Homo sapiens: one gene and its partners. The protein of the gene in region 1 purifies or fractionates together with the protein of each later gene. This does not show direct contact. Each region holds a gene or a part of one and is shown in the gene's direction. Other genes may lie near its edges.

What was found. Proteins that work in one complex are often made in the same cells at the same time.
Region 2: the proteins of DBN1 (region 1) and CORO2A purify together in Homo sapiens (co-immunoprecipitation; 2 studies listed by BioGRID and IntAct, with this or other methods). This does not show direct contact.
Region 3: the proteins of DBN1 (region 1) and TWF1 purify together in Homo sapiens (affinity purification with mass spectrometry; 3 studies listed by BioGRID and IntAct, with this or other methods). This does not show direct contact.
Region 4: the proteins of DBN1 (region 1) and TMOD2 purify together in Homo sapiens (affinity purification with mass spectrometry; 2 studies listed by BioGRID and IntAct, with this or other methods). This does not show direct contact.

Annotation. Positions count from the first base shown.
Region 1 is NC_000005.10:177,456,635-177,462,326, reverse strand, and holds part of DBN1 (drebrin), read left to right. Parts: exon of another isoform or gene 1-95; intron 96-1,623; coding exon 1,624-1,683; intron 1,684-1,771; coding exon 1,772-1,895; intron 1,896-2,586; coding exon 2,587-2,724; intron 2,725-3,058; coding exon 3,059-3,229; intron 3,230-3,619; coding exon 3,620-4,269; intron 4,270-4,569; coding exon 4,570-4,672; intron 4,673-4,823; coding exon 4,824-4,894; 3' UTR 4,895-5,692. UniProt on the Homo sapiens protein: Actin cytoskeleton-organizing protein that plays a role in the formation of cell projections. Required for actin polymerization at immunological synapses (IS) and for the recruitment of the chemokine receptor CXCR4 to IS.
Region 2 is NC_000009.12:98,123,557-98,126,637, reverse strand, and holds part of CORO2A (coronin-2A), read left to right. Parts: coding exon 1-89; intron 90-1,732; coding exon 1,733-1,864; 3' UTR 1,865-3,081.
Region 3 is NC_000012.12:43,793,223-43,796,317, reverse strand, and holds the end of TWF1 (twinfilin-1), read left to right. Parts: intron 1-167; exon of another isoform or gene 168-343; intron 344-497; exon of another isoform or gene 498-516; intron 517-562; coding exon 563-733; 3' UTR 734-2,595; downstream 2,596-3,095. UniProt on the Homo sapiens protein: Actin-binding protein involved in motile and morphological processes. Inhibits actin polymerization, likely by sequestering G-actin. By capping the barbed ends of filaments, it also regulates motility.
Region 4 is NC_000015.10:51,810,597-51,813,729, forward strand, and holds part of TMOD2 (tropomodulin-2), read left to right. Parts: 3' UTR 1-3,133. UniProt on the Homo sapiens protein: Blocks the elongation and depolymerization of the actin filaments at the pointed end. The Tmod/TM complex contributes to the formation of the short actin protofilament, which in turn defines the geometry of the membrane skeleton.

The DNA of each region.
Region 1 (5,692 bases):
CCAGTCTCCCATGCTGAGGCTTGGAGGTGGGAACGGGTGTGCCTGTTCTGGGAACTGACTGCGTCGTGCTGAGGACTTGATGTCTACATCTCACAGTATGTGGGAGCCTTGGGGTGGGGGCCGGCAGGGGGTGGTGTTGGAGAGGTGACGGCTAGGTCAGGCAGGGGTGGGGGACGTAGGCCAAGTGCGGGCGCTGCCCACCCAAAACAACGTGTGCAGTGGGCAGGTGAAGCCAGTAGGCGATGGTGGGGCCGGGGGTGAGCGGGTGGCACACGCCTGTCTTAAGGGGGCTGCGGCGAGGCCCCGGTGATGGCTGCTCCGGGCTTGCAGGTGATGTCGCCAGGGCTCTGTCACCTCAAGAGAAACTGGGACCCTCATCTCAGTATGAAAGTTCCTGGTTTTTAAGTGGTGGTAACTAATGAACATGGTTTAAAAATATCATACCAGCAAAACAAAAGCCATCTGTGGGTCATATTTAGCCAGTGCTTGCTGTGGCTCATGGGAACCCCTGAGGGATTTTAAGCTCAGGAAAATCATGGTCTGATCCGCATTTTGGAAAGGTCCTTTCAGGGCCTATGGAGAGCAAATAAGGCAGGTAGCAGTGAGGAAGGCTGGACCATGATGCCACGGTCCAGGCAGCAACATTGGGAGCATGGTGGCCCCGGCACTAGGGTAGGAGGTCCAAGAAGTTATCTGCAAAACAAGGAGCACTTCTGGAGGGCCCTAGGCACCTGCTTAGATATGGGGATGAGCAAGTGAGTGAGTGAGCCTGGTGCCCAGAGGCCTGGCAGGTCAGAGATGAGGTGGCTGAGGGCCCTGAGGGAAGAGAGGGGCTGTGTGACAGGGTTTGACGGGGCAGAGGTACCACCTCTGAAACCCTTCCTGCCAGATTGCGAAAGAAGCATGGGGGCTGTAAGAAGGCCAGAAGGGGCCGGGCGCGGTGGCTCACGCCTGTAATCCCAGCACTTTGGGAGGCCGAGGCGGGCGGATCACGAGGTCAGGAGATCGAGACCATCCCGGCTAAAACGGTGAAACCCTGTCTCTACTAAAAATACAAAAAATTAGCCGGGCGTAGTGGCGGGCGCCTGTAGTCCCAGCTACTTGGGAGGCTGAGGCAGGAGAATGGCGTGAACCCGGGAGGCGGAGCTTGCAGTGAGCCGAGATCCCGCCACTGCACTCCAGCCTGGGCGACAGAGCGAGACTCCGTCTCAAAAAAAAAAAAAAAAAAAAAAGAAGGCCAGAAGGCCGGGCACTGGTGGCTCATGACTGTAATCCATCCCAACACTTTGGGAGGCCAAGGCAGGAGGATCCCTTCAGCCCAGAAGTTTGAGACCAGCCTGGGCAACATAGGGAGACCCCATCTCTACCAAAAAATTAAAATTAGCCGGGCATGGTGGTGCACACCTGTAGTCCCAGCTACTCGGGAGGCTGAGGTGGGAGGATTGCTTGAGCCCAGGAGGCAGAGGCTGCAGTGAGCCGTGATTGTACCACTGCTCCCCAGCCTGGGTGGTAGGGCGAGAACCTGTCTTAAAAACAAAATCAATAAATAAAATACAGTAAAAAAGAAGGCCAAAAGCCCCTGTGGGGGGTAGGTGCACCAGACACTGTCCCTTTGGTTTCTAGGGTGACCATCGGGATGAGGAGGAAGAGACCCACATGAAGAAGTCAGAGTCGGAGGTGGAGGTGAGAGCTGGGGGCACCAGCCAGGTGAGGCAGACAGGGCTATCTCAGCTTGCCTGGCCCAGCCCCAACCTTTTCCTCGTGCCCTCAGGAGGCAGCAGCTATTATTGCCCAGCGGCCTGACAACCCAAGGGAGTTCTTCAAGCAGCAGGAAAGAGTCGCATCGGCCTCTGCGGGCAGCTGTGATGTACCCTCGCCCTTCAACCATCGACCAGGTAGTCCTAGGCCCCACCCCCCGTCCGGCCCCACTCCTCAGGTTGCGGCCCTGAGCCTCTCTGGGACTCTCTCAGAAGGGAGGCCTTGCCCAAGCAACCCTTGGAGAAGGCGAGACCCTTCATCCAGCGTGCATCCGCCCACCACTTCCCAGGTGGCAGGACCCCAAGAAGGGCCAGGGATGGTGGTGAAGTCGCTTGTGGCTGAACAGTGGGGAGTGCTAGGGCCTGTGGGGCAGCTCTGGCATGGGCTGAGGCACAGCGCTGGCCACGGGGAGCAGCTCGGCTGGGGTGAATTAGGTCTGGCCTGGAAGGCCGGAATGCATGCGTGCTGGGCTCTTGCCCCGGGCCTGAGGGAGCCTCCCGGAGCTTGCACCCAGGTGTCCCCGTTCCGCTTCTCAGTGTGCTGCTTCCGCCTCTCCTGAAGCTCTTCCCTGCCCTGTCTGCTGGTCTGAGTGTGCTTGCCCCATGCTGGGGTCCCGCCACAGGCCGTCCCTGCTGTACTGCTCCCAGGCTGGCTGTGTGTCTGGGGCTGGTGTGAGGCTGCGGCTGGCTTGGCTGATTGTGCCCCTGGCTGAAGGCAGCTTGGACATCCAGGGCCAGGCCCTGGGGGCGGGAGAGGCCTCGGGCAGGGGTGGGGGAGACTGACCCTCTCTTGTCCTCTGTCTCTTTCTCTGTCTGTCTCTCTCGGCAGGTCGTCCGTACTGCCCTTTCATAAAGGCATCGGACAGTGGGCCTTCCTCCTCCTCCTCTTCCTCCTCCTCCCCTCCACGGACTCCCTTTCCCTATATCACCTGCCACCGCACCCCAAACCTCTCTTCCTCCCTCCCATGTAGGTAGCAGCCCCAGGCCTCGGCGGGGGTGGTAAGGAGGGCCCCGCTTCCCAGCAGCCCCCCGCCCTCACTCCCCCAGTCTGACCGCTGATCTCTGGTGTTTGCCCCCAGGGCAGGCACTGCCTGCCTCTTGCCCCTGGCCTTATGGGGCACTGGCCTCCAGGGGCCTAGCTTACAGGGTCTGGAGCTGTAGTCTGGCCCCTGGTGGGGCTGGAGAGCTCCCAGCCCCCACCCAGATTCCAGAGAGGAGGTGCTGGCCAGGCCCCAAGGTGGACAATCCTGTCTCACCCGGCTCCCCCGCCCTCACTGACCCACCTGGGGTTTGTTCCACAGGCAGCCACCTGGACAGCCACCGGAGGATGGCGCCCACTCCCATCCCCACGCGGAGCCCGTCTGACTCCAGCACCGCCTCCACCCCTGTCGCTGAGCAGATAGAGCGGGCCCTGGATGAGGTCACCTCCTCGCAGCCTCCACCACTGCCACCGCCACCCCCACCAGCCCAAGGTGAGAGAGGGATGCTACCTGCACCAGGCCTCCCATCATCAGTCCCTGGCTGGGAGCCCCAGGTTGCCATGGTAACCGTTCTCCAGGGATCTGGGCCACCCATCACCAAGACTGCACTGCCCTGGAGGCGGCTGTGTGGGGAGGAGCCCTGGTGTACAGTCAGACCTGCCCTCTCTAAAGCTTAGCACCCGCCCTCTCAAGTGGGAATCGGGCCTTGGCCTTCCTCCCGGAGCTGCCAAGGGGCTTAAAGTCACTGGGGTCACTGGGTAAGGGGGCAGTGGGACACCTGCATGGAAGTCCCTGGCTCCCTCACTCCTTAGTGGGTGGGCAGGGTCTCCATCCTCCCCGAGGGGAGCCGGTTACATATCTCCTCTGCCTGTGCTGTGACAGAGACCCAGGAGCCCAGCCCCATCCTAGACAGTGAGGAGACCAGAGCAGCAGCCCCTCAGGCCTGGGCCGGCCCCATGGAGGAGCCCCCTCAGGCACAGGCGCCTCCCCGGGGGCCAGGCAGCCCTGCAGAGGACTTGATGTTCATGGAGTCTGCAGAGCAGGCTGTCCTGGCTGCTCCCGTGGAGCCTGCCACAGCTGACGCCACGGAGATCCACGATGCAGCTGACACCATTGAAACTGACACTGCCACTGCTGACACCACTGTTGCCAACAACGTACCCCCCGCCGCCACCAGCCTCATTGACCTATGGCCTGGCAACGGGGAAGGGGCCTCCACACTCCAGGGTGAGCCCAGGGCCCCCACGCCACCCTCGGGTACTGAGGTCACCCTGGCAGAGGTGCCCCTGCTGGATGAGGTGGCTCCGGAGCCACTGCTGCCAGCAGGCGAAGGCTGTGCCACCCTTCTCAACTTTGATGAGCTGCCTGAGCCGCCAGCCACCTTCTGTGACCCAGAGGAAGTGGAAGGGGAGTCCCTGGCTGCCCCCCAGACCCCAACTCTGCCCTCAGCCCTTGAGGAGCTGGAGCAAGAGCAGGAGCCGGAGCCCCACCTGCTAACCAATGGCGAGACCACCCAGAAGGAGGGGACCCAGGTGCGGCAGGGACTGCCTGGTGGGAGGGATGGGAGGGAGTGGGGGCTGAGCAGGGTGCTGGCCCTGCATTCCTCATGCTTGCACCAGTACCCCCTTCTCTGTGACCCACATTATTTGAGGGGAAGTCCATCCCACCCTCCCTCCCTGGGCCGGCTCTGCTTTTGTTCCCAAGGCAGGCATCCTTGTTTCCCTGGCAACCACTGATGGAATCATTGGTTGCTGGGGAAACGGGCTCAGGCCTGATAGGTCAGCCCCAGTCCTGCTGGGTGGGGCCAAGTGACCTGATGCTTTCCCCTGCAGGCCAGTGAGGGGTACTTCAGTCAATCACAGGAGGAGGAGTTTGCCCAATCGGAAGAGCTCTGTGCCAAGGCTCCGCCTCCTGTGTTCTACAACAAGCCTCCAGGTAGTACTGGGCTGGATGATGGGGAGGAATTTGGGTGCGGGGGCTGGATTTGAGTGTGGGTAGCCACCCCACCACTACCCACCGCTCACAGAGGCTGGGGACACAAGCGGTCTGCTAGGTCCCTAACTCCTCTCCCTTTCTAACGCCACAGAGATCGACATCACATGCTGGGATGCAGACCCAGTTCCAGAAGAGGAGGAGGGCTTCGAGGGTGGTGATTAGCGGTGGCGCCAGCCCTAGGCTACCCTTGCCAAGGCCGCCCACCTGCATCAGCCTCTGGCCAGACGGCCCGCCGTGCCTGCATTCGCAGCAGCTCCGCCTGGCACCCACTCCGGATTCCGGCCCTGGCTGGGGACTTGGCCGCTTCCCTACCCACAGGGCCTGACTTTTACAGCTTTTCTCTTTTTTTAAAAAGTTGATAGGAGACTTGTACAGTTGACTGGCTTTCCTCTCGTTGGTAGTTGAGACGCTGTTGCAAATTCCACCCCTCCTTCCCTGGTCCAGATTGTAGCTCTTAGTCCTCCCTGCTCAGCTGGCCGGGTTGGAGGCCTCACCCTGCTTGGGGCCTGGCGTGGGGGGAGCTCTGGTGGGAAAATGTCCCCCACCTCTTTTCCTAGTTTTATGTTTCTTGGGAAAATATCACTTTGTATTCTCTGTCCAGGGCTTCAGATATTTTGCACGAATTTTAAAACATGGCAATAAATGGCTCGTGGGCTCTGGCTCCCTGGGACCCCCTCCCCGCCCTTCTTTTGACCCCTTCCTGTCTGGCCCAAAGGAAGTAGCAGGCCCAGCTGGGGCCCCTCGGCTACCCCCCGTCTCCTGCCGGGCAGGTCCCAGGTTGGAGGCCCTAGGCGCGGTTCAGGTCAGGGCTATGGATGGGGCCCAGGGGCTTTGGTGGCCCCTCCCCAACTCCTTCCTCTTTGCTTGGGTTCCTTTTTCACGTTTAGTAACTGTTTTTTTTTTTTTTTTTTTTTTTTTTTTGGAAAGCACAAACTTCTGTAACGGGTCGTGCTCATGTCT
Region 2 (3,081 bases), on another chromosome or scaffold:
CAGCAGAACACAGGCTGGAGGAGAAGAAAACCTGGCTGACAAATGGCTTTGACGTTTTCGAATGCCCCCCACCAAAGACAGAGAATGAGGTGTGAAGGAGGACGGGGTGGGCCTTTCACATGGGGCAGCTGGGGTGGAGGGGAACAGATCCAGGCTGAGAAGAAGGGAGAAAATGAGGCATGAGAAGAATAACCAGCTGTGTGGCCTGGCCTAGTCACTTGACTCATTTTGTTAATTCATTCAACAAACAGGCAGTGAGCTCCATCTTATGCCAAAATGATGGGCATACATAAAGATGGTGGGAGGCTGGGCACAGTGGCTCACTCTTGTAATCCCAGCACTTTGGGAGGCCAAGGCGGGCAGATCATGAGGTCAGGAGTTCAAGACCAGCATGGCCAACATAGTGAAACCCCATCTCTACTAAAAATACAAAAATTAGCCGGGTGTGGTGGCGTACACCTGTAGTCCCAGCTACTTGAGAGGTTGAGGCAGGAGAATGGCTTGAAATTGGGAGGTGGAGGTTGCAGTGAGCCAAGATCACACCACTGCACTCCAGCCTGGGCAACAGAGCAAGACTCCATCTTAAAAAAAAAAAAAAAAAAAGATGGTGGGGACCAGGTGACCAGGTGCAGTGGCTCACACCTGTAATCCCAGCACTTTGGTAGGCCAAGGCGGGTGGATCTCTTGAGGCCAGAAGTTTGAGACCAGCCTGGCCAACATGGCGAAACCCCGTCTCTACTAAAAATACAAAAATTAGCTGGGTATGGTGGTGCGTGCCTGTAGTCCCAGCTACTCTGGAGGCTGAGGCAGGAGAATTGCTTGAACCCAGGAGGCAGAGGCTGCAGTGAGCCAGGATCACACCACTGCGCTCCAGCCTGGGCAACAGAGTGAGACTCTGTCTCAAAAAAAAAAAAAAAAAAAAAAAAAATGGTGGGAAACCATCTGTAAAATGGAGAGGGTTTGACCTAGTGGGTATCAAAGTCTTTCCAGTTCTGACATTATAGGACTTTCTGTGCTTTCAAAGTCCACATTTGTTTAGTGCCTACTGTGTGGCAGATCCTGGGGTAGGCACTTTGATACAGCACGTGATTGAATTCTCTCAACAGCCCTGGAAGTCAGTCTGTAGTGGCTAAGAACACAGAGGCTGGCATCTCACAGATGGATTCTGATCCTGGCTCTGCTGAGTACTAATTTAGGGTCTTAGACCCAGAGACTGAATGTCTCTAAGCTTCCGTTTCCACGGTGGTACGGTGGGGACACTAGCACTGCCACCCTTATAGGGGTGTCACAACGTTCCAGTGGGATAACGAGGCCCTTAGGGCATCACTCAATATCTAACACCCATTCTGCACAGAGGGCAGTTTTCTGACCCCATTTTCCAGAGGAAGGAATGGAAGCTCAGAGTGGGTAAGTAACTTGCCCAAGGTCACACAGTTCAGTGGTGGCGAAAACACCAATCCCCAGACTTCAGAGCCAGGCATCCTTTCCTCTATTTCATGGAGGATCTATGGAAGCAAAATACATCTGAAACATTCCAGTCTTCTTGAATTTCATTTATTGGGTGAAGTAAACAAGGTGTTTGTAAAAGATCTATGCAGTGACAGCCCCATCAGGCCTCAGCCATGTTAATGTGACCGCCTCCACCTTTCTGAGTCAAAGAGGGATAGTGGTTTAGCTTTCAGCTGGTGTCCTGACACCATGGTGATCCTGCCTTCCGATCTTTCTTCCCCAGTTGCTGCAGATGTTCTACCGGCAACAGGAGGAGATCCGAAGGCTCCGGGAGCTGTTGACCCAGCGAGAGGTCCAGGCCAAACAGTTGGAACTGGAGATCAAAAACTTGCGGATGGGCTCAGAGCAGCTCTGAGCAGAGACCTCTGCCCTCCTCACCCTCAGGGACACCACTCGGCTCCATGGGGAGGTTTAGAACCAAACCACAAGTCCCCTCAAGGACAACCACTATTTCTATATTTTTTACCAGAAAACAAAACTCTCCATCGCTGAAAGAGATTCCAGTGGGACATGGTGCCGTTTTTCTGTTTGCCTTCTTGCAACAACAGTTTCTGAATTGACTTTGTTTTCAGATGATGCCTTCTGTTGAATTCTGTTATTAAGGGCCCATGATGAGCTGTAACTTCTCAAGAGGAAAGAACACAGTAGAAAACTAGAGCTGGAAGGATCTAGGTTGACCTGTCTGTGATTTTCAAACTGTGGTCCAGAGAATAGGGGAAGACTGGGCCAGACGCAGTGGCTCATGCCTGTAATCCCAGCACTCTGGGAGGCTGAGGTGGGCGGATTGCTTGAGGTCGGGAGTTTGAAACCAGTCTCACCAGGCGCAGTGGCTCACGCCTGTAATTCCAGCATGTTGGGAGGCCGAGGCTGGTGGATCACGAGGTCAGCAGTTCGAGACCAGCCTGACCAACATGGTGAAACCCCATCTCTACTAAAAATACAAAAAAATTAGCTGGGCGTGGTGGCAGGCGCCTGTAATTCCAGCGACTTGGGAGGCTGAGGCAGGAGAATTGCTTGAAACCGGAAGGCGGGGGTTGCAGTGAGCTGAGATTGTGCCACTGCACTCTAACCTGGGCAATAAGAGCAAAAGTCTGTCTCAAAAAAAAAAAAAAAAGAAAGAAACCAGCCTGGCCAACATGGTGAAACCCCGTCTCTACTAAAAATACAAAAATTAGGCAGGGCGTGGTGGTTCACGCCTATAATCCCAGAACTTTGGGAGGCCAAGCTGGGCGGATCTTCTGAGGTCAGGAGTTCAAGACCAGCCTGGCCAACATGGTGAAACCCCGTCTCCACTAAAAATAAAAAATTAACCAGGCATGGTGGTGCATGCCTGTAATCCCAGCTATTTGGGAGGCTGAGGCAGGAGAATCGCTTGAGCCTGGGAGGCGGAGGTTGCAGTGAACCAAGATCATGCCACTTCACTCCAGCCTGGGTGACAGAGTGAGACTCCGTCTCAAAAAAAAAAAGTTGGCCAGCCGTGGTGGTGAGCGTCTGTAGTCCCTGCTATTCGGGAGGCTGAGATAGGAGAATTGCTTGAACCTGGGAGGTGGAGGTTGCTATGAGCCACGATTG
Region 3 (3,095 bases), on another chromosome or scaffold:
CTAAGAATCAATCACTTTATCATGGGTAGCACCTTCTATAGCAGGGATCAGCTGACTTTCTACAGAGGACCAAATAGTAAGTAAAGGCTTTGCCAAGCCACATATAATCTCTGTCATATATTCTTATTGTTGTTTAACAACCCTTAAAAAATGTAAAACAATCTTACCTTGGGCAAGATTTGGCCTTCGGGCCATGGTTTGTTTACCTCTCTTGTAGAGGGCTTTCAAGTGACCCAAGTGATGAAAGGGTCATGAGTAAATGTTCCTTGAATAAATAGTGTATCATAGCAACTTGAGAATGTAGTGGTGGCTTCTACTTTTAAACATTATTTAAACTGGAGCACTAAGAAAGAACCAAGAAGGAAGTGAATGTAGCTGATTATATATTCAAGTAACTCATTTAGCCCCTTCCCCCAAAAGAAGAAAGTGAAACTGTTTACATATGGTCCTTGATTCTGCCTTACTGGAAAGGGTATTATTTGTGAGCATTCATATACCTGAAAACCAGCTTGTTGCTTGTATTAGGTTTTGAATGTTGTGCTTCTAATTTTATCTTTTACAGATCGAGATAGACAATGGGGATGAGTTGACTGCAGACTTCCTTTATGAAGAAGTACATCCCAAGCAGCATGCACACAAGCAAAGTTTTGCAAAACCAAAAGGTCCTGCAGGAAAAAGAGGAATTCGAAGACTAATTAGGGGCCCAGCGGAAACTGAAGCTACTACTGATTAAAGTCATCACATTAAACATTGTAATACTAGTTTTTTAAAAGTCCAGCTTTTAGTACAGGAGAACTGAAATCATTCCATGTTGATATAAAGTAGGGAAAAAAATTGTACTTTTTGGAAAATAGCACTTTTCACTTCTGTGTGTTTTTAAAATTAATGTTATAGAAGACTCATGATTTCTATTTTTGAGTTAAAGCTAGAAAAGGGTTCAACATAATGTTTAATTTTGTCACACTGTTTTCATAGCGTTGATTCCACACTTCAAATACTTCTTAAAATTTTATACAGTTGGGCCAGTTCTAGAAAGTCTGATGTCTCAAAGGGTAAACTTACTACTTTCTTGTGGGACAGAAAGACCTTAAAATATTCATATTACTTAATGAATATGTTAAGGACCAGGCTAGAGTATTTTCTAAGCTGGAAACTTAGTGTGCCTTGGAAAAGGCCGCAAGTTGCTTACTCCGAGTAGCTGTGCTAGCTCTGTCAGACTGTAGGATCATGTCTGCAACTTTTAGAAATAGTGCTTTATATTGCAGCAGTCTTTTATATTTGACTTTTTTTTAATAGCATTAAAATTGCAGATCAGCTCACTCTGAAACTTTAAGGGTACCAGATATTTTCTATACTGCAGGATTTCTGATGACATTGAAAGACTTTAAACAGCCTTAGTAAATTATCTTTCTAATGCTCTGTGAGGCCAAACATTTATGTTCAGATTGAAATTTAAATTAATATCATTCAAAAGGAAACAAAAAATGTTGAGTTTTAAAAATCAGGATTGACTTTTTTCTCCAAAACCATACATTTATGGGCAAATTGTGTTCTTTATCACTTCCGAGCAAATACTCAGATTTAAAATTACTTTAAAGTCCTGGTACTTAACAGGCTAACGTAGATAAACACCTTAATAATCTCAGTTAATACTGTATTTCAAAACACATTTAACTGTTTTCTAATGCTTTGCATTATCAGTTACAACCTAGAGAGATTTTGAGCCTCATATTTCTTTGATACTTGAAATAGAGGGAGCTAGAACACTTAATGTTTAATCTGTTAAACCTGCTGCAAGAGCCATAACTTTGAGGCATTTTCTAAATGAACTGTGGGGATCCAGGATTTGTAATTTCTTGATCTAAACTTTATGCTGCATAAATCACTTATCGGAAATGCACATTTCATAGTGTGAAGCACTCATTTCTAAACCTTATTATCTAAGGTAATATATGCACCTTTCAGAAATTTGTGTTCGAGTAAGTAAAGCATATTAGAATAATTGTGGGTTGACAGATTTTTAAAATAGAATTTAGAGTATTTGGGGTTTTGTTTGTTTACAAATAATCAGACTATAATATTTAAACATGCAAAATAACTGACAATAATGTTGCACTTGTTTACTAAAGATATAAGTTGTTCCATGGGTGTACACGTAGACAGACACACATACACCCAAATTATTGCATTAAGAATCCTGGAGCAGACCATAGCTGAAGCTGTTATTTTCAGTCAGGAAGACTACCTGTCATGAAGGTATAAAATAATTTAGAAGTGAATGTTTTTCTGTACCATCTATGTGCAATTATACTCTAAATTCCACTACACTACATTAAAGTAAATGGACATTCCAGAATATAGATGTGATTATAGTCTTAAACTAATTATTATTAAACCAATGATTGCTGAAAATCAGTGATGCATTTGTTATAGAGTATAACTCATCGTTTACAGTATGTTTTAGTTGGCAGTATCATACCTAGATGGTGAATAACATATTCCCAGTAAATTTATATAGCAGTGAAGAATTACATGCCTTCTGGTGGACATTTTATAAGTGCATTTTATATCACAATAAAAATTTTTTCTCTTTAAGTTGTGTATGTTCTGTTGGTTTTTCTACTATAGTTTTTTTAATTGTTTGTGTAATGTTTCATAATTCAGTACCTGGTGTTAGGTTAGGAATCCCATTCATTTATTTGTTAATTAGTCTGCCTAAGTCCAAAAAGGATTTTAAGTAGCTTTAAACCTAGGCAAGAATAATTGTGACTATAGAGTGCTTAGATTAAAAATTTGCCACTGTTGTAGCAATAATAAAAATGCCATGAGTTATTCATTTTCTGTAACAGAAGCACCCCAGTACTGATTTACTTGACACTAAACTCAGACTTGCCACTGTATTCATTCATGTGAAAAATGTTGAATGCACTCCTGTGTGCGATTTGGTTTCAAATCCTTTTTATTAGAGATGTGACAAGATGGATGTCTTTGGTAGCAGTTTTACAAAAGATGCTGAAATAGCTTTAGAAAGGCTCATCGTTGGGCCGGGCACGGTGGCTCACGCCTGTAATCCCAGCACTTTGGGAGGCCGAGGC
Region 4 (3,133 bases), on another chromosome or scaffold:
GTGAAATTATACATTTTTTTATACATATGTTTCGCTTATCATGTTGCCGAAGGGAAGAACATTTCTCTTAGATGTCTTTTCTCCTCTTTGGATTTGTTACAAACCTGTTTAAGTGCTGAGTCCCTGACCTGCCTCTCCAAGTAAGCCTTTTTCCTTTTTTTTTTTTTTTTTCTTACTCTCATTCTTGCCTTGACTCTTAAAATCCTGGACCCTATAGAGCATTCCTTGCAGCCCCACAGTGCTGTGGGCTGGGGGCTAAAGCAGTTCTTGGCAAACTCTGGCAGAAAGCAAGAAAAAAAGAATCAGAATTCAATCATGGCTGTTTCTTTTGTACAAGCAGTTGTTGATAGTATTAAAGCAAGATAATGGGACATTATCAAAAATATAGCACTGTTTTTACCTTATGAAATAGTTGGGTTGCATGCAACAGAGTCTATGAAATCAAATGTTTTTTACTAATCAGTTTGTTTTCTTATTACCTGTGTTTTTAAAGTGGCTTGAAAGGTGGCATTTCCATGAGTGTGCACATATTGATGATAACCCTTAGAAAAACATACACTTGAGGAGCCTATCCATCATTTAATTAGCCTAGGACTTCATCTCCCTCTCTGCCCAAAGTGTGGAAGTGGTAGCTCTTTCATGATCATGGGCACAGTTAATCCTTTGCTATCCATTGTGATGGGGCATAATGTATATAAAATATTTTTCTATGTATTTGTTCTGCCAGATACTGTGTTGAGATATTTGGCAATATCTGGATAACTGACTGAAGGGAGATAACTTCTCCCCAGGCCTATCTCCCTCCCCCTTTTAGAGTTGTGCAGGTCCACTTTAAGTGTAAAATCACTCACCTGGACTTGTGGGCTTGTATCACCAACATCTATTATGGCACATGTAGATGACATTTAGGAGAAAAACCTTAGAAGTCTAGAAATCATATGATTAGTTCAGCACTGCAGCTCCCCATCTGCTTATAGTGTATAACTGGAAGCTCTTTCATCCTCATCAGCATGATTAAATGACTTCGTTTCTTTCATCTTTGGAGGGTATAATGTAAATAAGTGTCGTGTGTGTATGTGTGTGTGTACTGTCAGATATCTAACTAGGTATTTGGCTACATCTGGACAACTGATTGAAGGGAGATGCTCTCTCCCCAGTCCTCTTCCCTTGTCCTTTTTAGAATTGCTGCAGGCCCAGGTTAAATATGAAATTACTCCCTAGGCTTTGCAGTTTATGTTACCAACCACCACATTTTATAGCTATGTAGAGGATGACTCTTAGGAAATAAATATTAGAAGCCTAGAAATCATTTAGTTGTTCTAGCACCAAATCTATCCATTTGCCTAATGTATTTAACATTCCATCCTCATCAACATGATGAAGCCCCTTTCTTCCATCTTTGTAGGGCACATTGTATATAAATATTTTGTACATAAAGATCATCAAATACCATAATGGGGTATTTGGCTTCATCTGGAAAATTGACTGGAGGGAGATGCTGTCTCCCAGCCCTGCTTCCCTCGTCCCTGTCCAAGTTGCTGCAGGCCCAGGTTAGAAGATTACCAACCTGGAGGGGCATGCAGTTCATCTTACAATAAAAGCCCATTCATTTAAAAACTCAGAAATCATCCCAGTGCCTGTACTCCTCAAACCAATTTCCCTAAGGGAAGACTGGCACACCAGCCCAAAGAGCAGGTGCTTCTCTTCCAACAGAAACATGGCCCCTGACAGGGCACCAGCATTAGGGAAACCAATGTCCTCCGAATAGCTGCCATGAGAACATTTCAGATGCTCAAACTGAAAATTCTTAAAACCAATATTAAGCATCAGCATGCTTTAAGTGTAAGATAGCCCTTTGGAATTTACAAACACATGTGCAGCTATTTCCTTCTTCACAGATATGATGTACTCAGCCCCCTCCTAGGCACTACGAAGAAGACAGAGGAAGCATAAAAATTCTGGACTAATATAATTTTATATGTGTTTCTGAGATTGGGGAGTAGACTGAGTGCCTTTTTTACAAAGAAGATCCCATATTTAATTCAAGTATTTATAGCATCAGCAAAAATGGGCAGAGGGCGGGAAGTTGAGAACACTAGGTTCTGTGCTATGTTACCTGTATTCAGTAGAAGTGTTTCTGGAGTCAGGTTTTAAGTCATGATCCTGAAGCTTCCTTCCCCTCTTCCACTAATGATGCAATAATAGCTGTTTTCATTTTAACGAGCAGAGAACTAAGAGGAAAGGTCCTAGCTCTGCCTTCCACTTGCAGCTTCCCTTTACCTCCTCTTATTGCTTTCATCTCAAATATCCCTGCTACTCAACCAATCCTAAAGCTAAAGTACTGAGATGCACACAAAGGAAAGGTGTGAGAGTGCTTGGAAGCATCCAGCTGAGCCCACTGGATGAAAATCAGACGATAGGGCCTCCTGTTGTAATATACTAGCCAGAGAAAAGCGCCAAGAACTTCAGGGATATTATTCACTGCTTTATTGCTCCCTAACCCTAGATCAGATTGGATTTTACTTTGTAGTTCAGGAGTTAAGAAGTCAAATTGCTGACCGAGGTGGGGAAGGATGATGGAAATTAAAGGTTTACATTTGTTTAATGGCAGAACTGAGATTTGCTCAGCTTATCTCTTTCCCATCTGTCTGTAATAGCAATGACTGAATAATCAGTAGACCAATGGAAGAGGAGTTGCAAGTTTAAATTTGTAACCTGACTCTGGGTTCTGTTCTAGGAATAGTGCATGTTTTAGAGGCTTTGCCAGTTGGGATACATTGTTGACTTGGGGGAGGATGAAGGAGAGAACTGATGACCTAGACATAGAAAAGAGTAGTTAACTAACTAGATGTTCTTCTGATCTCTTCCATGGTAGACATTCTGAGCACATTGGCCCAGTTAGTTGGTATGGTGAAGGGGCACCGTACTAACAGATTTGGAGACTGAAACCTAATCCCATCACCAACACTTAGCAGGTATATGATCATGGGCAATTCATTCAATTGCCTGCCAATTATAGACTATATAGGGGGAAGAGCACTGGATTTGGAGTCAAGAAACCTGGACACTTGGCTCCACACTTCCTTAGCTGGGTAACTTTGGGCAAACCGCTTGGTCTCTCAAGCCTAAGGTT